Homo sapiens: one gene and its partners. The protein of the gene in region 1 purifies or fractionates together with the protein of each later gene. This does not show direct contact. Each region holds a gene or a part of one and is shown on either strand. Other genes may lie near its edges. The genes, in order: EAPP, PRPF6, NCDN, CDC5L, ISY1, SLU7 and SNRNP200.

What was found.
Region 2: the proteins of EAPP (region 1) and PRPF6 purify together in Homo sapiens (affinity purification with mass spectrometry; 3 studies listed by BioGRID and IntAct, with this or other methods). This does not show direct contact.
Region 3: the proteins of EAPP (region 1) and NCDN purify together in Homo sapiens (affinity purification with mass spectrometry; 2 studies listed by BioGRID and IntAct, with this or other methods). This does not show direct contact.
Region 4: the proteins of EAPP (region 1) and CDC5L purify together in Homo sapiens (affinity purification with mass spectrometry, with the first as the bait; 2 studies listed by BioGRID). This does not show direct contact.
Region 5: the proteins of EAPP (region 1) and ISY1 purify together in Homo sapiens (affinity purification with mass spectrometry, with the first as the bait; one large-scale study listed by BioGRID). This does not show direct contact.
Region 6: the proteins of EAPP (region 1) and SLU7 purify together in Homo sapiens (affinity purification with mass spectrometry, with the first as the bait; one large-scale study listed by BioGRID). This does not show direct contact.
Region 7: the proteins of EAPP (region 1) and SNRNP200 purify together in Homo sapiens (affinity purification with mass spectrometry; 4 studies listed by BioGRID and IntAct, with this or other methods). This does not show direct contact.

The regions. Positions count from the first base shown.
Region 1 is NC_000014.9:34,522,702-34,526,201, reverse strand, and holds part of EAPP (E2F-associated phosphoprotein), read left to right. Parts: intron 1-1,394; coding exon 1,395-1,505; intron 1,506-3,500. UniProt on the Homo sapiens protein: May play an important role in the fine-tuning of both major E2F1 activities, the regulation of the cell-cycle and the induction of apoptosis. Promotes S-phase entry, and inhibits p14(ARP) expression.
Region 2 is NC_000020.11:64,001,632-64,005,131, reverse strand, and holds part of PRPF6 (pre-mRNA-processing factor 6), read right to left. Parts: intron 1-3,500. UniProt on the Homo sapiens protein: Involved in pre-mRNA splicing as component of the U4/U6-U5 tri-snRNP complex, one of the building blocks of the spliceosome.
Region 3 is NC_000001.11:35,560,799-35,564,038, reverse strand, and holds part of NCDN (neurochondrin), read right to left. Parts: coding exon 2,745-3,240; intron 1,648-2,744; coding exon 1,406-1,647; intron 838-1,405; coding exon 613-837; intron 273-612; coding exon 130-272; intron 1-129. UniProt on the Homo sapiens protein: Probably involved in signal transduction in the nervous system, via increasing cell surface localization of GRM5/mGluR5 and positively regulating its signaling. Required for the spatial learning process.
Region 4 is NC_000006.12:44,394,206-44,397,705, reverse strand, and holds part of CDC5L (cell division cycle 5-like protein), read right to left. Parts: intron 1,366-3,500; coding exon 1,266-1,365; intron 1-1,265.
Region 5 is NC_000003.12:129,126,915-129,130,063, reverse strand, and holds the end of ISY1 (pre-mRNA-splicing factor ISY1 homolog), read left to right. Parts: 3' UTR 1-2,649; downstream 2,650-3,149. UniProt on the Homo sapiens protein: Component of the spliceosome C complex required for the selective processing of microRNAs during embryonic stem cell differentiation. Required for the biogenesis of all miRNAs from the pri-miR-17-92 primary transcript except miR-92a.
Region 6 is NC_000005.10:160,412,582-160,416,081, reverse strand, and holds part of SLU7 (pre-mRNA-splicing factor SLU7), read left to right. Parts: intron 1-771; coding exon of another isoform or gene 772-787; coding exon 788-957; intron 958-1,609; coding exon 1,610-1,763; intron 1,764-2,102; coding exon 2,103-2,183; intron 2,184-2,461; coding exon 2,462-2,626; intron 2,627-3,500. UniProt on the Homo sapiens protein: Required for pre-mRNA splicing as component of the spliceosome. Participates in the second catalytic step of pre-mRNA splicing, when the free hydroxyl group of exon I attacks the 3'-splice site to generate spliced mRNA and the excised lariat intron.
Region 7 is NC_000002.12:96,299,047-96,302,546, forward strand, and holds part of SNRNP200 (U5 small nuclear ribonucleoprotein 200 kDa helicase), read right to left. Parts: intron 2,671-3,500; coding exon 2,478-2,670; intron 2,008-2,477; coding exon 1,952-2,007; intron 382-1,951; coding exon 283-381; intron 1-282. UniProt on the Homo sapiens protein: Catalyzes the ATP-dependent unwinding of U4/U6 RNA duplices, an essential step in the assembly of a catalytically active spliceosome. Plays a role in pre-mRNA splicing as a core component of precatalytic, catalytic and postcatalytic spliceosomal complexes.

The DNA of each region.
Region 1 (3,500 bases):
ACCTCAGCCTCCCAAAGTGCTGGGATTACAGGCGTGAGCCACCATGCCCAGCCTGTGTGCTTGTTTTTTAATGTAGCTTTACTGTTTTTAAAAAATTCATGGACTTTTATTTTTGGTACACTTGTCACAATTAATGGACTAATATTGATACATTATTATTTTTTTTATTTTTTATTTTTTTGGAGACAGAGTCTCGCTCTGTCGCCCAGGCTGGAGTGCAGTGGCGTGATCTCGGCTCACTGCAAGCTCCGTCTCCTGGGTTCAACCGATTCTCCTGCCTCAACCTCCTGAGTAGCTGGGACTACAGGCATGTGCCACCACGCCCAGCTAATTTTTGTATTTTTTTAGTAGAGATGGGGTTTCACCATGTTGGCCAGGATGGTCTTGATCTCTTGACTTCGTGATCCGCCCGCCTCGGCCTCCCAAAGTGCTGGGATTACAGGCGTGAGCCACCGAGCCCGGCCTTGATACATTATTATTAATCAAAGTCCATAATTTTAAAACATTTCCTTAGTTTTTATGTACTGTTCTTTTTCTGTTTGAGGACCCCGTGTAGGATAGTACATCACTTTTAGTTGTCATGTCTCCCTGGGCTCTTCTTGACTCTGTCAGTTTCTTAGACTTTCCTTGTTTTCAGTGCCCTTAATTACTTTGAGGAGCACTAATCAGGTCTATGTAGGAGGCCCCTCTGTTGGAATTTGTCTGTTGTTTTTTCTCATAATTAGGATGGGATTATGGATTTTTATAAGTAAGAACATAGAAGTAGAGAGCCATTTTCCTCACATTATATCAAGAGTACATACTACCAACCTGAGTTTTGTGTGTTGGTATTGACCTCGATCACCTTGCTGACCAGTGTTAACTTTCTCTACTGTAAAGTTAGTCTTTTACCCCGCCTTACCATACCGTACTCTTTGGAAGGAAGTCACTGTGTCCAACCCAGACTTAAGGACTAGGGAGTTATACTCCACCACTGTGAGGGAAGAGCATCTTTATAGATTATTTAGAATTCTGTGTGGGGATTTGTCTGTTCTCCTCCATTTATTTATTTATTCAGTACATTTATATTAGCGTGGATTCGTGGGTATTTATACTTTGGGTTGTAATCCAGTCCTACTTTATTTTGTTGCTCAGTTTCAGCTTTGGCAGTTGGTGACTTGTTCAGTTGGCTCCTGTTTCCCTTTGTCATAACCACCTCACTGTTTTGTTTTTGTTTTCTTGATTACTTCCTTCTTTTCTGGCACTAAAAGATGCTCCAGGTTCATCTTGTGTTCCTTATTCCTAGAATTAGCCATTTCTCTGAATAGTACTGGTTCTTTTTATTGGAAAATGACACTAGAAACCAAGATCTGGTTTTAATATGTTTTTCTCCCCACTTTCTTCTTCTGTTCTAGTTACCATGGTTTGGGACCACAGAGATCACGTCAACAACAGCCTGTTCCAAATAGTGATGCTGTCTTGAATTGTCCTGCCTGCATGACCACACTTTGCCTTGATTGCCAAAGGTAATGGATGAAGGACACACACACACACACACACACACATACATATTTTGTTTAAATTAGAAACAGACTTTTTTTTTTTTGAAGTCAGAGTCTTACTCTGTTGCCCAGGCTGGAGTGCAGTGGCACAATCTCGCCTCACTGCAACCTCCGCCCCGTGGGTTCAAGCGAGTCTCCTGCCTCAGCCTCCCAGGTAGCTGGGATTACAAGCGGCCACCACCATGCCTGGCTAGTTTTTGTGTGTATCTAGATCTAGATCTAGATCTAGATAGATAGATAGATAGATAGATATAGTTTTGTTTTGTTTTGTTGAGATGAAGTCTCACTCTGTCGTACAAGCTGGAGTATAGTGGTGCAATCTTGGCTCGCTGCAACCTCTGCTGCCCAGGTTCAAGTGATTCTTCTGCCTCAGCCTCCAAGTGGCTGGGATTACAGGTGCCTGCCACCACACCCGGCTAATTTTTGTAGTTTTAGTACAGACAGGGTTTCACCATCTTGGCCAGGCTGATCTTGAACTCCTGACCTTGTGATCCACTTGCGTTGGCCTCCCAAAGTGCTGGGATTACAGCTGTGAGCTACCACGCCCGGCCTTATTTTTATATTTTTAGTAGAGACAGGGTCACACCATGTTGGCCAGGTTGGTCTTGAACTCCTGACCTCAAGTGATCTGCCCACCTCGGCCTCCCAAAGTGCTGGGATTACATGCGTGAGCCACTGTGCCCAGCCCAGAAACAGACTTTTGAGGTACTCAGGAATTCTGATAAAGTTCTGTACTTAGATTCTTGGTGCTGTGTGACTAATCTTTATACAATTAATTTTGATTATATATAGTTATATTAAATGTAGCTTTTATACTTTTAAAGTTGGGCACAGTGACTCATGCCTGTAATCCCAGTGCTATGGGAGGCTAAGGCGATCACTTGAGCCTAGGAGTTTGAGACCAGCCTAGGCAACATAGTGATACCTCATCTCTACAAAAAATAAAAAAATAAAAAATTAGCTGAGTATAGTGATGTATGCGTGTAGACCCAGCTACTCGATAGGCTGAGGTGAGAGGATGGCTTGAGCTCAAGAATTCAAGACTGCAGTGGGCTGTGACCACCACTGCACTCCAGCCTGGGCAACAAAACAAAGGTGAGATCCCCATCTCTCTCTCCAAAAAAAAAAAAAAAACGGGCTGGGCGTGGTGGCTCACGCCTGTAATCCCAGCACTTTGGGAGACCGAGGTGGGCGGATCACGAGGTCAGGAGATCGAGACCACGGTGAAACCCTGTCTCTATTAAAAATACAAAAAATTAGCCGGGCATGGTGGCGGGCGCCTGTAGTCCCAGCTACTCCGGAGGCTGAGGCAGGAGAATGGCGTGAACCCAGGAGGCGGAGCTTACAGTGAGCCGAGGTCACGCCGCTGCACTCCAGCCTGGGCAACAGAGCGAGACTCCGTCTCAAAAAAAAAAAAAAAAGGTATCTTTTCTAGTGCAAAATAGCAGCATAGAAGCAAACTGGCTCTCCTTCCCCCTGCAGAATACCAAAACCAAATATACAGCACTGAAGCTATCACCACCAGTATCCCAGATCTCAATATAAGGAGGAGACAGTTTCTAGGGCCACAGAGAAGTAAAAAAAACTTAAAGCAGACAGTAAGAGAATTGTTCTTCCATATCTGCTTATCCTTCTCCACAATCTGCCTGGCACCAAGTGAGCAGAAAAATTCCCCTGAGCTCATGATTTTTACATTAGAAAAAGTAAGATGGAAGTGTACAACCAGCTTCTTTACCTTTTTGAGTTCTCTGGTAAGAGATCTGTCCCTGCCTCAACTCATAGGAAGCACTGAGAGTGCCTGAAGGAAAAAATATCCCTGAGGATAGCCAGAGACAAAGAAGGATAGCCAGAGACAAAGCCAGGTCCCAAGTGTGAACCCCTAGCCAGCATTCCCATCCTACTGGGATATCCCTATCCTCTTTGGGACCCACCCCCCACTTCATTTGGAACAGGCAGCAC
Region 2 (3,500 bases), on another chromosome or scaffold:
CTTCAAGGAGTGTGACTTTATGAGCAGAAGTGGAGGAAGCACACACCCCTGAAGTTGGCCTAGAACAGAAGAGTATTCTGAATGCTAGACACAGCCATGAAGACGTGACCGTGCAGAGGCCAACATGCTCTCCGGGGGTCACGTGACTGCAGGGAAGACCCTCAACCTGAACTGTGCCATTCCTGTGCCCCCAGAGGGACACGCTGGCGACGGCCACTGAAGGATGCCACGCTTCACAGGCCAGAGCATATGGCGTTAGTGTAAAATAACTCCACTTCCACACATCTGCATTAACTAGCGGAGTACACAGCATGTGAGTGCATTATTGTAGGGGAGCTGCCAGTCGGGCCTCCCCAGGGGACTCTGCACGTGGGACACCCCACCCTGGCCAGGAAGCTCACATGCTGCACCCTCCCCAATCCTGAAAGCCCTCTTCCCTTTTACAGAGGAAGACATGGAAGCTCAGAGGCCAAGCACCATGCCTAAGGTTACTCAGCCTCCTCAGGTCTCAAGATCAGCACCCAAAACGCCCATTCTCCCAACAAAGGACTAAGGTGTCAGCTCAGCCCAACAGCGACCCAGAGCTCACAGAGACCATGCACTGCCAGGCTCCCTGGCTGGCAGGTGTCCTAAGTCACCAGTGGAAGTAGCTGTCATCTTAATTTCAAAAACCAGACCCTTCAAGCAACGTGTAAGTGTTTGCTAATAACCAAATGAAGCAGTGCTGGGCTTCACCCCAGGAAAAGAATACAGTTTTTGGAAACACTCTTGGGAAAGGGCAGGCCAGGACCAGTATTAGGGCAGCGGCAAAGGCCATCCTGGAGATCCTGGGTTCATTCCACCTTAGCCCAGCTTCTCTGCCTGAGAGAGCACAGCCAGGAGGCCACTCCCTGAGAGAACAGCCGTGGAAACACAGTCCCTCAACACTCCCCGAAGGCCCCCGCCTCCAACAGCATACTCCCATCTCCAAATCCAAACCAACTGGAAATGAACCCAGACAATCTGGTGGTGAGCAGGGAGTGGCCACAAAGACATTCATGATCATTCATCAAACTGTGGCAGGAAGAATTCAATAGAGCTTTTCTAAGTAAACAATACTAATTACCCAGACTTTCATGGGCTCTTCATCAAAGAACTATTTCTTCCTAGCTGAAAAAAGATAAACTGATTTCTACAAACCCAGACAGGTGCTAACTTTCTGTTCCTGGCCACCTCATTATAAGACGCTGTCTCTGGCCGGGCGCGGTGGCTCACGCCTGTAATCCCAGCACTTTGAGAGGCCGAGGCGGGTGGATCATGAGGTCAGGAGATCAAGACCATCCTGGCTAACATGGTGAAACCCCATCTCTAATAAAAATACAAAAAAAAATTAGCCAGGCCTGGTGGCGGGCGCCTGTAGTCCCAGCTACTTGGGGGGCTGAGGCAGGAGAATGGCGTGAACCTGGGAGGCGGAGCTTGCAGAGAGCCGAGGTCGTGCCACTGCACTCCAGGCTGGGCGACAGAGCGAGACTCTGTCTCAATAAAAAAAAATAAAAGAGGCTGTCTCTGAGCATTCACTGAGCAGCTGGGCTGCGGTCAAGAAACCAGCCTCGACAGAGGAAAGCACGTTCACATGTGAGTGCACAGGGTCGGGGGAACATGCATCACAGGCAAGCAGCCTTCACCTGTCTTCTAACAGACGTAGACAGTAAGTGAATGAAACTATATTTGATAAGGGGCTTTCTACCAAAGAGCCCTCATCTGCACGGTCCTATCAGCACAGAAGCCTCAATGGGATATTTCGCTTAAAGACATTTGGAAAAACAAGAGCTGGAAAGCTCTCACTGAAAACTGCCCTTGATTCCATAAAATACACTTTATTTTTCCTAGGCTATAAATTCAGGAAGAATAGGCTGGATGCGACGGCTGATGCCTGTAATCCCAGCTCTCTGGGAGATCAAGGCAGGAGGATCACTTGAGGATGGGAGTTTGAGACAAGCTTGGACAACACAGCAAGATCCCATCTCTACCAAAAATTAAAAATAGCTGGGCATGGGGGTGGGACCTATACTCCCAGCTACTTGGGAGGCTAAGCTGGGAGGATCGCCTGAGCCTGGGAGGTGGTGGCTGCAGTGAGCCAAGATCGTGCCACTGCACTCCAGCCTGGGTGACAGAGCAAGACGCTGTCTCAAAAAAAAAAAAAAAATCTGGCCGGGCACAGTGGCTCACGCCTGTAATCCCAGCACTTTGGGAGGTCGAGGTGGGTGGATCACTTGAGGTGAGAAGTTCAAGACCAGCCTGGTCAACACAGTGAAACCCCGTCTCTACTAAAAATACAAAAATTAAGCAGGCGTGGTGGCAGGTGCCTGTAGTCCCAGCTCCTCAGAAGGCTGAGGCAAGAGGATTGCTTAAACCCAGGAGGCGGAGGTTGCAGTGAGCCAAGATGGTGCCATTGCACTCCAGCCTGGGGGACAAAGTGAGACTCCATCTCAAAAAAAAAAAAAAAAGAAAAGAAAAGGCCAGGCACAGGGGCTCACGCCTGTAATCCCTGCACTTTGGGAGGCCAAGGCAGGAGGATCACTTGTGGTCAGGAGTTTGAGACCAGCCCGGCCAACATGGGGAAACCCCATCTCTACTAAAAATACAAAAATTGGCCAGGCATGGAGGCGCACACCTGTAATCCCGGCTACTCGGGAGGCTGAGGCAGGAGAATCACTTGAACCCGGGAGGCAGAGGCTGCAGTGAGCCAAGATCGTGCCCCTGTACTCCAGCCTGGGCGACAAAGCGAGACTCTGTCTAAAAAAAAAAAAATGGATAGAAGCCACCTGCATAGGCCAGGTGCAGTGGCTCACGCCTGGAATCCCAGCACTTTGGGAGGCCGAGGCAGGCAGATCACAAGGCCAAGAGATCGAGACCATCCTGGATAACACAGTGAAACCCCATCTCTACTAAAAATACAAAAAGAAATTAGCCAGGCGTGGTGGCAGGCGCCTGTAGTCCCAGCTACTCAGGAGGCTGAGGCAGGAGAATGGTGTGAACCCGGGAGGCGGAGCTTGCAGTGAGCCGAGATCACGCCACTGCACTCCAGCCTGGGCGACAGGGCGAGACTCCATCTCAAAAAAAAAAAAAAAAAAAAAACCAGAAAAAAAAAACAAAAAATGAAAAAAAAGAAGCCACCTGCACAGATTAGCTTCAGAACAGCCCCCTGACTAGCACTCGTTCTGGACCCAGTTCAAGAGCAGCATCTACTACACACTTCCAGTGACAGGAGAAACAGTGCTCCTTTTATGAATCCACAGTAATAAAAATAAACAAACTACCCACAAAAGCTCTACCCTGGCAGGAATCCCTGGATGGAATCAGGTTGCCTGGTAGGCACACCGTCTGTCGTTATCTGACCTGAGCTGACGGCACACGCTGCATCGCGGGAGCAGAAGGCACAGCCTCGTCAGCAGCAGGAAAGAGTTCAATCAACGTGTGGCTCTGGTGCCTTCTCAGGAGAGAAAATGAGTAACACCCAC
Region 3 (3,240 bases), on another chromosome or scaffold:
CAAAGATTTCCTCTTGCTTAGAAAATGCTGCAAAACCATCTTCTAAAAATGGTGACTTTTGCCCCAAACACAGGAGGTCCACCCAGGTCTTCTGTCCTCACCCATCAGGACTGGATCCCCAGTTCTTACCTGGAGAGGTGCTAAGGAGCCGGGCCATGAGGAGCCCCAGGGTGGCCACATTAGCAGCCAGAAGCAGCCTTCCCTGTTGCTGCACTAGTGCTGGTAGCGACGTCATGAGGGTGTTCATTAGAGATGTGAAGCAGGCGTCACGCCTGGAAAAGAAAGGGGGGAAGGATGGAGGTAGGTGGGGGTCTAGTACAGCCAAATCAAGCCCTTGGCAAGAAATTAGGCAGTAGGGTGATTAACTTTGGGCCCCAAACATAGCATCTGGGGGGCAGAGATTGGAACAAGCAGACATGCTGAGACAGTACCTGGGGGTTCCAGCATGCCGAATCCTTGTGCGGGGCTGGCTATGTCTACTCTGAGACCCCCATGCTACCACTAACAAATCCATGGGCATGGGGGGCAAAGTAGGAGACTGAGAATTGAGGCAACTGGGCAGCCTCCTTTGCCTCCTCCGGCCTCCTCCCCCACCTCTCCCGAGCCCCTCACTTGATCAGCCCCGGTGCGGTGACCACGAGGTTGAGGAAGATGTGGCAGCAGGTCTGCAGGCCAATCTCCACGCTGTCAGGCAGCACCGAGGTGTCGTGGCCAGGGGATGTGAGTTCCCACTGCTGCAGGAAATACTTGCACAGAAGCGAGGGGGCCCCTTCCTTGATCAGGATCTCCCGGGGCCCATCTTCAACGGTCAGGTGGCACCAGCCAGGCAGGAGGAGCCTGGGGATGTGGAAGGGACAGACGTGTGTGGGATTGGGAGAGATGAAGGCACATAGATTCCCTTTTTAGGGCACCTTGCCTAAGAGAAATGGAAGTAGGGGAGAAGGACACATCCTCGCAGGTACCACAGAAAAAGTACAAGCTTCAGAGTCGCACAACCCAGGACCAAACTTGGGCTCTGCCACAAAGTGTGACTGTGGGCAAGTGACTTTAATCTCTATGAGCCTCAGTTTCCTAATCTTTCATATGTGAATGAGACTTCTGTTATATTTACCACGTGGACCAAATGAGATCATTTTGGTAAAGGGTATAGCAAAATACCTGGCTCGTAGTAGGTGCTCAATAAGTATAAGTTCTCTTTTAACTGAGAAATCTGGGGTTGGCAAGTGACACCTGGCAGCCGAGGAGTCCTGTGGGAACAAGCCCCCCAAAACAGAAATAACCCTAAGGGATATCTCATGGCCCAATCAGGAAGCCTGGCACAGCTCAGTTTGTGGGGAGGGGTGTCCTTGTGTTAACGCTTTTCGGTAGAATGATCTAGCTGGACAGACTGTAACTACAGACTCACCGGAGAGCGTCTCCTGGCCAGGTGGGCCCTGGGGTGGTGGGGGAGATGGCCAGGTTGGCCACCTGCTGGGAAAGGTCATTGGCCTCCTCGGCCTCCTCGTAGAGGGTCTTGGCATAGCGGACGAGGAAGGGCAGCAGCTGGCACACCTCCTTACGCAAGGATGAGGTCTCCTCGGCCAGCCAGGCACCCAGGATCCGCACCGAGGCAAACACAAAGGGCTCCTTCTGCTTCTCTGACCCCACCTGTTGCCACAGGACCCCCTTGAGATGGAGCAGGACCAGGGACCCTCCCTGCCTTGCCAGAGGCCAGCCAGCTAGAAATAATACAACTAGAAGGAAATTCTGGCCTGTGAGCCTTTCAAAGGCAGGCCCCAACCTTTATTCTGTCCCATGAACCCAGCACCTAGCATGTGGTAGGGACGCACACAAGGGACTGGCACAGAGTGAGCCAGGCCCTCCACACACGTCTGCTGAGTGAACTGGGCCTGAGTGAATTGAGTGACATGCCCCCGTACTCGCTGAGGCTCCAGTCACATCTCCCTAACTCCCTACCTCTGGAGTGTCTCAAGGCTAGAAGGAAATTCATAGGTCAAAAGCTAAGTTAAACACCCTTTACAGCAGCTCTGACCTGGGGTGGGAGGGCAGGTTCCTGGCTACTGTGTAACTGCTCCCAATGGTGGGAGTGAGGGGATGCTCTCTTTTGTGCTAAGTCAGAAAAAAGACATGAGCTTAGCGTGGTGCATGGAATATATGGCTGGTGAGCTCGGTGGCTGGAGCAGGCCATTAAAGAGACCAGAGTCATGACTGAATCCCTGTGGGACAGGACAGCTGGCCTCTCAGGCGGGGAGGCAGGAGGGGATGTAGGGGAGGCAGGCGAATTGATCTAGCCAGACCTCTATAGAGGCCAGGAACCAGGCAGCCCTGCTTCTCTTCCCTGCACCATTAGAAGTTCGGGTGTGTGCGTGTATAAAACAATGCTATGGAGTGAGCAGAACAGACTGCTTCAATCTTGTGTGCATGTGTTGGGGAGAGGTGTGTGGCGTGTAGTGTGTGTGTATTGGGGGGAGCGTTTGAGTGGGAGGTTACTGTGTTGTGTGTGTGTGCGTGTGTGTGTACTGTGATGTGAGTGCACATATGGTGTGTGGTATGGTGCTTGTGTGGAGGGAGGGAGAGAGAGGGAGGTTGGGCCGCACACTACTCCCTGGAGTGCTGGCTACAGTATCAGCTTGTGTGGACATGCAGCTTCGCTGTCTCCCCATTATTCTCCTCCCCCTTGCCTCCCAGCTCCAGCACTGGCTCCCCCCATACTGGGCCCCCTCTGTGGGTCACTGCACCCTCACCTGCAGCAGGTAGTGGATAACAGCCCCTATGGCCTCCTTCATGACGCTCACGAGCTGCACCTTCTGTGGCTCCTTAAGCAGTGACTGCTCACAGCGAGTGCATTCCTGGATCCCCAACTCCATGAGGGCATAGCAGGCGGTCACCACATCCTCTTTCACCTCCGTGCCCGTCTCCTCCAGTGCCAGCCGCACTTCCACGCACGCCAGATTCACCAGCAGGGCCAGGAACTTGCTCCCGGAGCTGCCCGCCGGGATCCAGTCGGAGCCGCAGGCGTGTGCCAGGCGGGCTGCCAGCTTCAGTGCAGGGTTGCGCTGCCAGGAGCTCAGCTTGCTTCCCAGGATGCGTGCCAGCCCGGCCTGCAGATCCCGGTAGCATTCAGGGGGCACGGTTGTCGGGGGCAAAAAGAGGGGCAGCAGCTGGCAGAGCTCAAACTTGCTGGCATCCTCAGCTTTCTGGAAATCCTCACTGAGGCCCCGCAACACGGCCAGCAGGTCG
Region 4 (3,500 bases), on another chromosome or scaffold:
TGTTTCACAGCCAGTGCCTTCCCAATACCAATCAAGGAAAGTAACTAATTGGCAGTCATACAAAAGACACATAATCTTGTGTGTCCTACAGTCATCTGACTCCAAAATAGCTACAACAAATGAAGCTCTCATATGCCAACAGAACACACTCAACATACTGGATAAACTGGGCATTACCTCTGCCATAGCTTCAATTTTTTTTAAATATGGTTTTCTATAAATATTCTGAAATGGTTGGGGGAAAAAAATACAAGATAGTTTCAGAGAAATAAAGAAGGTAAAGAATACTAGCGAAATAGGAACTGGACAATTCCAATTATTATTCACCCAACGGGTTAATAAATCATGCAGTTTTATTGGTCCTAAGGATGCCTAGACTAATTATTGAACTATGAATGGAGACAAGCACACATTGTGAAATAATGTATTTGGTCTTCATCCGTTTCCAACAATGCAACTCCTAAAATCCTGGGACTCTTCCAAGTGAAAAGTGTCTTTCTGCATGTTAATGAGTTGACTGATAGCTGGCAGTCACCAGAAAGACCACGGCAGGATTAGAGGGCTTGGGACTTTCAGCCACAACCCCCAACCTCAGGGGAGGGGAGAAGGGCTGAAGGTCGAGTTGATAAGCAATGGCCAATGATGTAATCAATCTTGCCTATTTAATGAAGCCTCCATAAAAACCCAAAAGGACAGAGTCTGGAGAACTTGTGGGCAGCCAAATACATGGGGGCTTCCGAAAAGGTGAACAAGAACACACCCACTGGCTGGGAGGGTGGCATATCCCAACTTCAATGGGACATAAGCACCTGCACTCAGGACCCTTCCAGGCTTCACCCTGTGTATCTCTTCATGGGGCCGTTGATTTGTATCCTTTAAAATATCCTTTGTAAATGTGGGTGTTTCCCTGAGTTCTGTGAGTCCTCTAGCAGATGAATGGAACCCAAGGAAGGGGCAGTGGAACCCAGCTCGCTGGTCAGAAACACAAGCAAAATAACCTGGGGTTTAGGGTCAGCATCAAAACTGGGGTTCAGTCTTGTGGGACTAAGTCCTCAACCTGTAAGATCTGGAGCTATCTCCAGGTAGACAGTATTAGAGTTAACTGAATTAGAGGACACCCAGCTATCCACTGCAGAATTGATTGCCTGATTGCTGGTGGAGAGGGGAAAAAAAAAAAAAAACCACATATCTGGTCACAGAAGTATTCTGTGTTGATTGTTATGTGAGAAAAACACTTTGCTTTTTATTCCTATATCCACACATACCTTGCTTCTTCCAATTGTTTCTCTCTTGCTTTCCTCTTGGCCTTCTTTCCCTGAGTATTAGCCAAGCGGGCTCTGGCTTCAGAAAGCATCTCAAGTTCATCTGCAAAAATTAAAAGAAGAAAAACTAAGTATTTTCTTAGTTCTTACATACTCTAGAAGCAAGGTATGTAAGAGACACTCTATTGCTCAAAATGAGAAAAAAACATAAAAATACTGATTTTATGGTGTAGCATAATGGAAACAGCTTGAGTTTTGAAGTCAAAGAACCTAGGTTAAAAACCAGGCCCACCACTTGCTAGCTATGTGACCTTAGTCACTTACTTACCCTCCCTAAGCATGGTTTCCCTATAAAATTCGAATAACAATTCCTATTTCACAAGGATTTTGAGAAGGGCTAAGTAAAACGAAATATGTAAAGCATCTCGCAAGCATTCATTAAACAGTGGCTACAATTATTGTATCCTTCATTATTATCAACTAACTGGCACAGCACAAATTGTGAAATAGGGTAAAAACTATTTAATTATGAGAGAACAACTATCATTAGATACTTTTTTTTCCCCTCAGAACAATTTCTCTCATCCAATACATTTTTCGTGGCTCTATAGAATGGAATAATACATGCCACTATTGATGCCTTAGAACAATTCCTATGCAAGGCTGTCCAACTAAATCACATGGGAACTTGTAAAATACTCAGATTCCAAGATCACTGCTCTTCCCGTGCCTCCCACACCACCCCAGATGTACTGACTCAGTATATACAGGAGAAGCCCTGATATTTCTATTTTTAAATGCTCCCCCTGTGATAATGATGCAGCCAGCCTAGCCACAGCCTGCCTTTGGGAACCACTATGTTCAAACTTTACATTTTAGAAACTTAACAAATATTCACTGAGTGCTTCACAACAACCCTGCTAAGGTAAAGCAGGTATTAGTATTCCCCATCTCGCAAGAAAGGGAATCAAAGCTCAGAGAGATTTTATGACTTGTCTAAGGTCAAACAGCTAATAGGTGGCACACACGGGTTGAAAATCCAATTCCTGATTCTGTTAACTGATACATCATACTTTACATATTTATAGGGTACATGTGAGAGTTTGTTACATGCATAGAATGTGTAATGATCAAGTCAGTATATCTGGGGTACCCATCACCTTGAGTATTTATTTCAGACCTCTCTTCCAGCTACTTTGAAATATGTAATACACTGTTGCTAACTATAGTCACCCTATTCTGCTATCAAACATTATAACTTATTTCTTTCCATCTACGTTTGTACCCATTAACCAACCTCTCTTAATCCCGCTCTCCCACCCACACACCATACCCAGCCTCTGGCATCTATCACTCTATTCTAACTCCATGAGATCAACGCTTTTAGCTCCCACATATGAGGAAGAATATGCAGTATTTGTCTCTCTGTGCCTGGCTTATTTCACTGAACATAATGACTTCTACTGCCATCCATGTTGCTGCAAATGACATGATTTCATTGCTTTTTATGACCAAATAGTATTCGTGTGTGTGTGTGTGTGTGTGTGTGTGTATACCATTTTTTTTTTTTTTTTTTTTTTTTTTTTTTGAGACAGGGTCCTGCTCTGTTGCCCAGGCTGGAGTGCAGTGCTTGATCTCAGCTCATGGCAAACCCAGCCTCCCGGGCTCAAGTGATTCTCCCACCTCAGCCTCCCCAGTAGCTGGATCTACAGGCATGCGCCACCACACCTGGCTAATTTTTGTATTTTTTTATAGAGGCAGGGTTTCACCATGTTGGCCAGGCTGATCTTGAACTCCTGGGCTCAAGTGATCTGCCCACCTCAGCCTCCCAACGTGCTGGGATTACAGGCGTGAGCCACCATGCCCAGTCCACATTTTCTTTATCCATTCACCCATTAATGGACACTTAGGTTGATTCCATATACTTTCTATTGTGGAATTCCTGATTCAATGCCTCCCAGAATCACTGTTAAGTCTCCATCACCGTCTCACAGGTTGCCTTCTCACACAGAATAAATAACTTGCCTATAGTCAAATAAGTAATTAATAGGAGGACTGAGGTCCAATATTCTGACTTGATGTCTCTCTCCATGGAATAGGAATGAGAAACAGGATCTTCAAGGGCTCACCTCTAGCCTCTGAAAAATCTACTCAGTAGAATTACACTACTCAGTTTTAAAGACAGGGTCTCGTTATGCTGCCCAGGCTGGCCTCCAACTTCTGGGCTCAAGGGGTTAT
Region 5 (3,149 bases), on another chromosome or scaffold:
CCTTGGAGTTCTTCCATCCCCCAGTGGTACCTCAGGACCCAGGGCTGCAGACACAGGCTGGTGCTGCAAGGGCTCCTGCCCCATTCTCAGCCTTCCTTCCCTCTCCTTGTCTCATGTTGACCGGAGGGTAGGGGTCTGTCCCTGGTCTTCCTGGTAGGTTTTGTACACATATTTTGCTACTGTGTGGATCCATTTATTTTTATTGTGGAGTGTATACAACAGGTTGCGAACTGGCTGCCTGTGTCTTATTTTGACTTGCACTGCCATTTTGAGGGGAGAAGAATCAATTAGTGGCAAACATTTAAAAATGCAATTTTTTGCAGACCAAAGTATAATTTTAAAAAATGCAAATTTTCTAAAAGACACATCTCTTGAAAAATGAGATGATGTGGCCAGGCGCAGTGGCTCACGCCTGTAACCCCAGCACTTTGGGAGGCCGAGGCGGGCGGGTCACGAGGTCAAGAGATGGAGACCATCCTGGCCAACATGGTGAAACCCCATGTCTACTAAAAATACAAAAAAATTAGCTGGGCGTACTGGCATGCACCTGTAGTCCCAGCTGCTTGGGAGGCTGAGGCAGGAGAATCACTTGAACCCGAGAGGTGGAGGTTGAAGTGAGCCAAGATCGTGCCATTGCACTCCAGCCTGGCGACAGAGTGAGACTCTGTCCCAAAAAAAAAAAAAAAAAAAGATGCACGCAACCCACAAGTCAATGACCAGGTCCCTCTGTGTTGGTTGCTGCTCTGGGCTCTCCGTTAGCCCCCCTCCACCTGCTCCACTCGCTCCTGCCTGGGTGGCAGGAATTTGAGTTTGCTATTCCTGTTTTATAACCTGTTCTGCAGAAACCTATTTTTATTAAAGATTTTTATAAGAAAGGGAAACCTCCATGTCTTCAGCTTGTTCCCTGGGCCAACGGCTCTGAGGTGACAGTGGCATTAGGATGTGACCAGTCACTAAGGGGCACTGCCTTCCTGCAGGGGAGTCCCTGAAGCCCCAGCCCCAAGTGTGGCAAAGACAGGACCAGATCCCAGGAGTCTAGGTGGGAGTGAGCCGACCCACCATGGCGTCCGTGGCCACAGCTGTAGACAGGGCTCCTTGCAGTGGGCTGCACCGTGGCCTGCTGAAAGCACACAGTGGACACGAGCTGAGTCCAGAGCTTCCTCTGAACTGGGGCTTAGCTCTCCAGTGGGGAACCATGGTCAGCGGCTGTAGCCCCTGGGCAAGATGGTGCCTGGCTTCCTGCCCTCTGCAGGGTCATGGGAGTGTCTGGGAACTCAGGGTCAGGGCCAGATGGCTGTTCCTGGGGCCTGGGGCTCCAGCTCAGGCTGTTTGGGAATAGGAGGAACTCTTGGCTTGGAGAAGCCCATCACACAGCGGGAGGCCTGGGATGGTTGGTCTGCGGGGAGCAGCTCAGACTGGGGGTGGCAGAGCCGTGTGTGGCTGTGTGTGGCCAAGTCGGGAGAGTGGCCAGTGCTGGGCCCTCTCTAAGGAGCCCGAGGGCCACAAGGACTGTGGAAAAGGTCTGAGTGAGGGAGTCGGGAGCTAGTGGCTAAGGGACTTGCTTGAGGACGCTCCGTGCGGCCACAAGGAGAGGCCCAGGCAGGACCAGGTCAGGAGGAGGCTGGGGCAGAGGCCCTGGCAGGAGGTGGGTGGGCTTGGTGGGGATGGGAGTAGCCAGGGTGTAGGTGAGGATGGGGAAGGGGCCCCCCTGCCTCCTGGCTTCCCTGAGGGCTGGGCTGGCCAATCCCAGCCCTCAGTCAAGCCCGGAGGCAAATGTGTGCAGGGAGGAGAGGTGTCCAGGTTGAAGCTTTGGGAGCCCTTGGAGGCAGCAAGGCAGACTCGCCTCTGGGACCCAGCACCCAGCTTGGGCCTGCAGGTGGGGACTCAGGAGTGAATATCGTGGGGGCTTTGAGCAAGACCCTCTGGGCCCAGCCTCACCTTCCATACTTTGAAGTCAAGGAGTGGACCTGTGCTGTCTCAGTTTGCTCTGGGGTCTGGGCAGTCCTGTGGTTTGGGCAGAGGCCTCAGAGGGCCCTAGGGACAGACTGACCCAGGTCTGAGCCTCTTGGGAGCGTGCGGATGGCCGGCCTCAGACAGGCCTGGTTGTGGGTTTGTCTTCCAAGGGGCACACGCGCACTCTGGTGCTTCCTGGCATTCAGAAGAGAATGGGGAATCCAGACATCAGGCCTTCCTTCTCCCTGGGAAGGATGGCAGGTGCTTGGAGCCAGGCCTGTCTTGAGAGCCAGGGCTCTGGGTCTTCCTCCTCCAGTGCCCTGTTCCACGCCTTCAGTGCACAAAGCACTCCCCTCCTGGGATCTCTTCAGGGATCCCCGGGATGCAAACTGGCCAGGGATTAGAATTCCACATTTGAGCAAACAGACTGAGAGTGGAGAAGCACCCAGCTGGACATCCTCTAGGTGTTCCTGGCAGAGGCCCTTGCTACTTGTCTGTGCCCAAAGGCCCTAGAGGGTCCTAGATGTGGGACAAGGTCTCAGCAGGGCTCCAGTCCCAGGCCTGGAAACAGCTGGGGGTGGGGGAAGCTGGCTGGGTGGGTGTGGTTATCTTTTCCCAGCTTGTGGCTCCGAGGTGACAGAACCAATCTCAGGAGGCTTTGTTTGGTTAATAAAATCTACTGAATGGTTTATTTTAGCTTTGGCTCTGCCTGTGGTTTCCCGAAAAGCTACTTTTTCATAGTCATGTTTCCATCAACTTCCTTCTTCCCTCACACTGCCTGTCCTCCAGCGTCTAAAACACACCACCTCCCTCCTGTTTTGCTTTAAGACTGGTCACAGCATCCCCACCCAGGCCTCCTGGACCTCCTCCCGCTGCATCCCCAACTGGCTGACCCCATCTGCCCTTGGGCAGTTTATAAACAAGGAAGAAATGAAAACCTTTCTCCTCTTGCCCTGCACTTGCTCTGCAGTGCTGCGCATGCACACCCCATTCCCTGAAACACTGGCAGGATCTGGACCCTAGCTGGGGCTCCTCACCCTGCTCACTGTGCAGCACTGAAAGCAGGAACCCGCCTGGATGGACATCAGGCCTGGCCCAGCACCCAGCTGACTAGCAAGCAGAGGGATCCAGGGGGACGGGCAGCGGCACCCAGCTCCTTCTGGCATCTCACTTGCTGCCCACCTGCTCCACCAGAA
Region 6 (3,500 bases), on another chromosome or scaffold:
TCACTACAAAAAATACGAAAAAATTAGCCGGGCATGGTGGCGGGCACCTGTAATCGAGCTACTCGGGAGACTGAGGCAGGAGAATCGCTTGAACCTGGGAGGCGGAGGTTGCAGTGAGCTGAGATCATGCCACTGCACTCCAGCCTGGGCAACAGAGCGAGACTCTGTCTCTAAAAAAAAAAGAAAAAGAAAAACCAAGAGAATGTAGTGTCAGGGAAGTCAAGACATAATATATAAAAAGGGAAGGAACAGAGCTGAAAAATGTCCATTGGATTTAGCACAATGGTCCTTGATGACTTAATGATGTAACTCTTTTCTTTAGAATGGTAGGGAATGGAGGGCTAAGTTAGAGTGAGTGAGGATGAAAATAGAAGGTGAGGAAATGGAGGCAGTGAATATAGATAACTCTTGAGATATTCATTCTTGAAGGGGTACAGAGATAGGACCCTCTTTTCTCTCATTAAGAGTTACTGTGTTAGAAAAGTTTGAGACATACACAGAAAGAGGGATTAAGGATGGATATGAGAAAAGAGTCCTGTGAAATTTTAAATACACGTGTGTGTCTCTCTCCATTTGTAAATTGGAGTTGAGAGAGAAACAGTGCTAACAGTATGTAGAGACCTTGAGGAGGGGGAAGAGACCCTTCCTTACACATAATATAGGAGAAAAAAAAACATATGAAACAGTATATATTATTAGGATGTATTTTTGGTAGTTTGAGTGAATTCATGAAGGCCTACTTTTTACTGTAAGTTTCACTTCTTTTCCTAGAGGAGGCCAGATAACCATGTCAGCCACAGTTGTAGATGCAGTTAATGCTGCACCCCTATCGGGGTCCAAAGAAATGAGTTTGGAAGAACCAAAGAAGATGACCAGAGAGGACTGGAGAAAGAAGAAGGAGCTAGAAGAACAGCGAAAATTGGGCAATGCTCCTGCAGAAGTTGATGAAGAAGGAAAGTAAGTACTTAATTTTTTGTATGATCCATTCATTCAGAATTCAAATTCATGTCTACTTAGTTTATTAATTTTTCATCCTTTGAGAGGAACCTCTCTTCATTTATGTCATTTTTGTTTTTTATTTTATCAAACTCATATGCATATGGTTTAATAATGAAATTATGTTGAAGGGCTTATAATGAATAGCAACAGTCCTTTTTTACCGTTCCCACCCCTGGCCTGCTCTACAGAAGTGACTGCTATGAAATCTTTCTATTTTGAGTTTTTCTGGTTGTTACCGTCACATCTCTAGATAATAATACCTACACAATTATTTTAATTAATTGACTATAGACATTATTTGAACCAAAACTTCTTGTGATAGAAGATTTAGATTACTAACACACATCTCTATTTTCCTTCCTCTCTTGTCCCCCTTCAGTTATATCACTATTCTTAGTTTCTTAGTTGGAAATATTTTCACTCTAAAATAAATTACTTCTTTATTTTTAATTATTCTTTATTATAGTATAGAGATAGCAACCTTGTTCTCTTCCCCCTACCACTGCAATATTTCTGTTCTTAGATTTTGTATAAGCTACCTTTGTAATTGTAATACTGATTATTTTCCAATTTTATCCTTAAATTTTTTTTTTTTTTACTTTAATTACAGAGACATCAACCCCCATATTCCTCAGTATATTTCTTCAGTGCCATGGTATATTGATCCTTCAAAAAGACCTACTTTAAAACACCAGAGACCACAACCAGAAAAACAAAAGCAGTTCAGCTCATCTGGAGAATGGTACAAGAGGGGTGTAAAAGAGGTATGTAGGCAACCTGTATACATCTTCATGGATATGGAGAGTTTAAGAACTTAATGTAAGAATTTTTAATGCAATACTATTTAAAGTAGAAACAGATAATAAAACCCTTTATCTGGTATTGAAATTCACAGTGCATTACTATTTTATCTTTGTGTTTCTTATATAAATTTTACACTCCTGAACTCTTTAAAGTTTCACATTTATAAATGTGTGGAGACTCTAACTTATTTTCCTTTTAACAAAGAAATCATTTCCCTAGACAAAATAGTAATGAGAGTCAAAGTTATTTCTAACTTACGTGGTTAAGACATTTTTGTTTTTCTTTATATATATTTATAGAATTCCATAATTACTAAGTACCGCAAAGGAGCATGTGAAAATTGTGGGGCCATGACACACAAAAAGAAAGACTGCTTTGAGGTAAGTTCACCTTTGAAAATTTTGAAAACCGTTGTCAGAGTCTTTCTTTTTTCTTTGTCAGAGAGCTAACTTCTCTTTTTCTGAAATCACCTATATTTAGGTACAAGTTAAATAAAAATTAGTTTCAGTGGAATTGGTTCAACACCAACAAAATTTTCTACTGTAAGACTAACTGTAAATTGAATAGATCGTAAAGTGCCCACTCTGTAAAAGTTGTATGAAGTTTTCCTTTGGGCCATAAAAACTTAGGAAAAGATTAAATCTTACTCTGTTTTTAGAGACCTAGGCGAGTTGGAGCCAAATTTACAGGTACTAATATAGCTCCAGATGAACATGTCCAGCCTCAACTGATGTTTGACTATGATGGGAAGAGGGATCGGTGGAATGGCTACAATCCAGAAGAACACATGAAAATTGTTGAAGAGTATGCCAAAGTTGATTTGGTGAGCAAAATTCCCTGCTTTCCTGGGGTTTTTAAAGAATCGTCCTTTTGCTGTATCTCTAGCAGCTCTACTTTTCAAATCTTGAAGCACTTTAAAAATGGTAGCATTTTTATAATAGTAGTACTACTGTATAGGCTACCTTTATAATTGTAATATTGAGTAAAGGAAATAGTGTGCTAGCCATACTTGCCAGCAGTTTCTTCTTATTTGATTCTTATATTGGTCCTTTACTCCCTGACTTAGGTAGCAAAAGATATTGGAAGCATGAAGACAGATTAGTGTCCAAAGCTTTTGGTTTTGTGAGGTTAGAAATGTATGGCCCCAAGCTATAGCTTGCCCATGAACCTATTTTATAGTTGCCTCCCATAGCATTTGGGAGTAGTAGAAAGGGAATGGATAATTTGTTTCAGAAAATTTTATTTTATTTTAACCCAACTTCAGTTTTTACTGTTATGATTTGACCTATTCACCCTTATTCCTTTGAAGTCATAGTCACACTGCCTTTTTTTTTTAATTAGAGGTATCATTTTAAAATTATAAGATTTCATATAAAAATCTGGATTTCATCTTTTCTTGAATATTGTAATATATGGTAACCCCACGCCTGCCTGGTAAGAGTCAGTCATCTAGAGTTCTGTGGCAACTGCTTGTTTTTGTCAGGGCTTGCTCCCTGCAATTTACTACTGATGCCATTTGGCTCAGTTTACATTAATGCCTGGTTCAAACACTGTGTAACTCCTGCTCTTTATAGAGTAATAGGTCTAGGGCTACAAGGAATCCCAAAGAGATAGGTTTGTTCAGTGACCTTTTCTGAAATAAATTAATTTAAAGTTATTCATTTTAAATATATAAAAATTTAGGTGGTGACTTGAAT
Region 7 (3,500 bases), on another chromosome or scaffold:
TACTTGACAATCCATAGCCCACCTTCTTGTGAGGACTTTCCAGAGGAAAAAACTCTGGAATATTGAGTTCAGAAGCACACCAGACTAAGATTTCATCAACATACATCTTTGGGAAGGAAGAAAACCGACAGAAATTTTAAGAAACTCTAGACACTAAGTGTTTATTATAGTTCACTCCAGCAAAAAGTGGCTCAATAAATGTAACAGGACCTAGGCATGGGGAAGAAGCACTAACACCCAGAAGTAACCTTGTAGCAATGAGGAAGAGCAAACTGAACTTACATTAGCCGAGAGGGTGCAGCGCACGACAGCCTCGTCCCCTTCCATGTCATCATCAGATGCCTCTTCTCGAACCTCCCCGTATACGTCTTCATCACCTTCCTGTGGAAATGACCCCAACTCAACCATGATCTGGAGCTGATCCTGCATCACCACAGAACCTCTCCCTCAAGTCACCCTAAATTAGCTCAATGGGTAGAGAAATGGCTTTGGGGTGAAACCGAGAGCCTATTGGAACCAAGGTCAGCCTTATTCCAGTGGACATAGAATGACTGCTTAGCACGACTTATTAGATATATCTACTTTCTATTTCTCACCTTAGGCTGCTACAATGGCAATCAACTGGATCATAGCCTCTCTCTAATACACACACAATCAACACTCAAAAACAGTGATCAGCTAAGGAGAAAAGAGCTATACAGAGGCATGCCTGGGAAAGCAGGTGGTGACTCCGGAATGAAGAGATCGCACTTAGCCTGCTCACCACTCTATTTACTCATACACTGCACATTAGGCGTACCTGGCATAGTGTCACAGTCAAAACAGGTACTTCAATAATGAGCACTGTTAAATGAATGAACTGCTAAAAGCAAAGCAGTTTGTTGCTACTTAAAATCATCAAATCCTATTAACTATACTGTAGGAAGAGGCTTAGCAATCACCTATTGAAATGGCCTCATTTTATAGAAGGAGAAACTGAAGCAAGATGACCTGCCAAGATACAGGACTCAAACTCAGAAGTCTTGGCTCCTAGTCCTCTGACTCTCCCCGTGCGACCCCTTCTTCCAGCCTTGGTATATATACCGGGGCTCCATTTTCCCTTTCAGGAGCCACTTCTACTCACTGAGAACTCTAAGGCACTGTAATTTTCTCAAAGTACCCCACTTATTCCTATTTAGTTATATTCAAGGAATTCTATTAGACAGTAAACATTAACCCCAGTGACTTAACCATGTACAAACTATGTCTGTGCTCTAGGGCAAATGTGCAATCTTTTAGTCAGATACAGTAATGAAAAATGGGAAAATACTGTAATAAGGTTAAAATGCAGTAAAACATAGCAGATACATTCTCAATGAAAGTATACACTGTACTTTAACTTTTTTCTTTCTTTTTGCTGATCCACTTGGTATATTTTAAATAATTATATTGTGGCCGGGCGCAGTGGCTCACACCCGTAATCCCAGCACTTTGGGAGGCCGACGGGGGGCGGATCACCTGAGGTCAGGAGATCAAGACCACCTTGGCTAACACGGTGAAACCCCGTCTCCACTAAAAATATAAAAAATTAGCCGGGCATGGTGGCGGGCGCCTATAGTCCCAGCTGCTCGGGAGGCTGAGGCAGGAGAATGGCGCGAAACCTGGGAGGCAGAGCTTGCAGTGAGCCGAGATCGCACCACTGCACTCCAGCCTGGGCGACAGAGAAGACTCCGTCTCAAAAAAAAAAAAATTATATTGCTTTACATTTGTTAGTTTAAATTTGCGGTAGCAAAGTTAAAAGATAACTGCACTTTTTTTTAAGCAAAAGAACATATAATGCCCAAGTCTGAAACCCATACAACACCATAAAATTTATCTGGTTTAAACTAGAGAGCTTGTTTACACTAGAAGGGGTCCCTTTACCTTAATCAACGTCAAAAACAAGAATGGACTGGGTATGTTTATCACTCACCTCCTCATCAGACTCAAACTGCACATTCACACCGTATGTCTCATCAATGTTGTCATCTGAAACAATGAAGGATTAGAAAAAGAGGGCAGTGAATGGCTAGTAAAACAAGGCACTCTGGAGCCAATGTCCTCCCCGACTACCTCTCCTCAGGAAAGATCTAAGTGCTAAGGACACATACAGATACTTAGATGATCAACATGAGAGAGCCACCTATGCTGCTCCTGCCAAGACCTTCTCCACCTGCCAGCCTTGGAGTCAGCCCAGCTCTGCTTGCTCAACCACTTGAGCCCCCAAGGCTCTGCCCACATTTTCTCATATTCCACACAATAAAAGGGTCTCAGAGTAAGGAACAGCTGCTGGAATCTAGGGATTCTGGTGTCCATCAATTGTAACTCTTCAAAAAACACAGAACAGATTATGGGAACTCACTGACATTAAGGTTTTTAAATGAATGATGCTAGAAGATGCATGTTTAGGGGTCAACAACAACCAATGAACATGATCAGAACATAAAGCGCGCACTTACCCATATTTTGGATTTCCTTATCTCCACCATAGTCTGTGATCTTTTTGCCCAGGTTCACTAGCACATGGTATCTGGTATCATCTGTTTGACCCAGCAGCAGGTCAATCTCCTTTCGCCTTTCCTTGTCCCGCAGCTTTTCATTCTTTAGAACAGCTAGAACTTCATCAGCTGCCCCACAAAGGATATCACGTGGCTGGTGGCAAGAAACAACCAACCAATATTGAGAACGACGACAGGCAAAACATCTTCAACCAGGTGTATGTGGCGGCAGGATGTGAAGAGCCACACCTCTTCAAAACCTGCCACATACTAGGCTCTGACCTTTCTCATTAATGCTGATGCCACAACTAAAGGAAGACTTGTCTGTTTTTAAAAAGATTAGCTAGGTGGCCTCAAGCAGCAGGACACAGCTTCCACAACAGCTTGCCACACTCCAGGTGGTAGTCACTTGGCAGACCTCCTCTAGCTTGCCACACTTTTGTAATTCTTTGTCCTCACTTCCTCTAGCACCCACCTCAACAGAGCTCCTCAGACTCATAATGGTCCCCAATCTAATCACACATGTGTAATGGTTAGGAACATGGATTCTAGAGATAAACTATCTGGATCATATCTTGGCTCTGCCAAATACTACTTCTGTGACTCGGGAAAATTACTTAACTATTCTTGCCTCACATCTCTCTTCTATAAAATGGAAAATGAATATTAACAGCACCTATTCATGGAGTTATGTAGGGTTGGGGGAAGACACGTGCTGTTCCACACAAATCGAGTGCTCAGTAAATATAAGCCACTTCTGCCAACCAGTACAGCCCACAAGAGGATCCAGAGAAAAGGTTCAGTCTCCCAGCTGTGACCCTCTCCCTTTCTGACACATGGTCTCATCCTCTGGCCACCTCACTCTGAGAATACTGAAATAAAGCAAACTTGTTTTTTTCTATACTCTCACAACAATTAACACAGAAGGCTTCTGTGACAATTCCTCCCCACCAGCAACCAATCCAAAAATTGTGCAGTGGACAC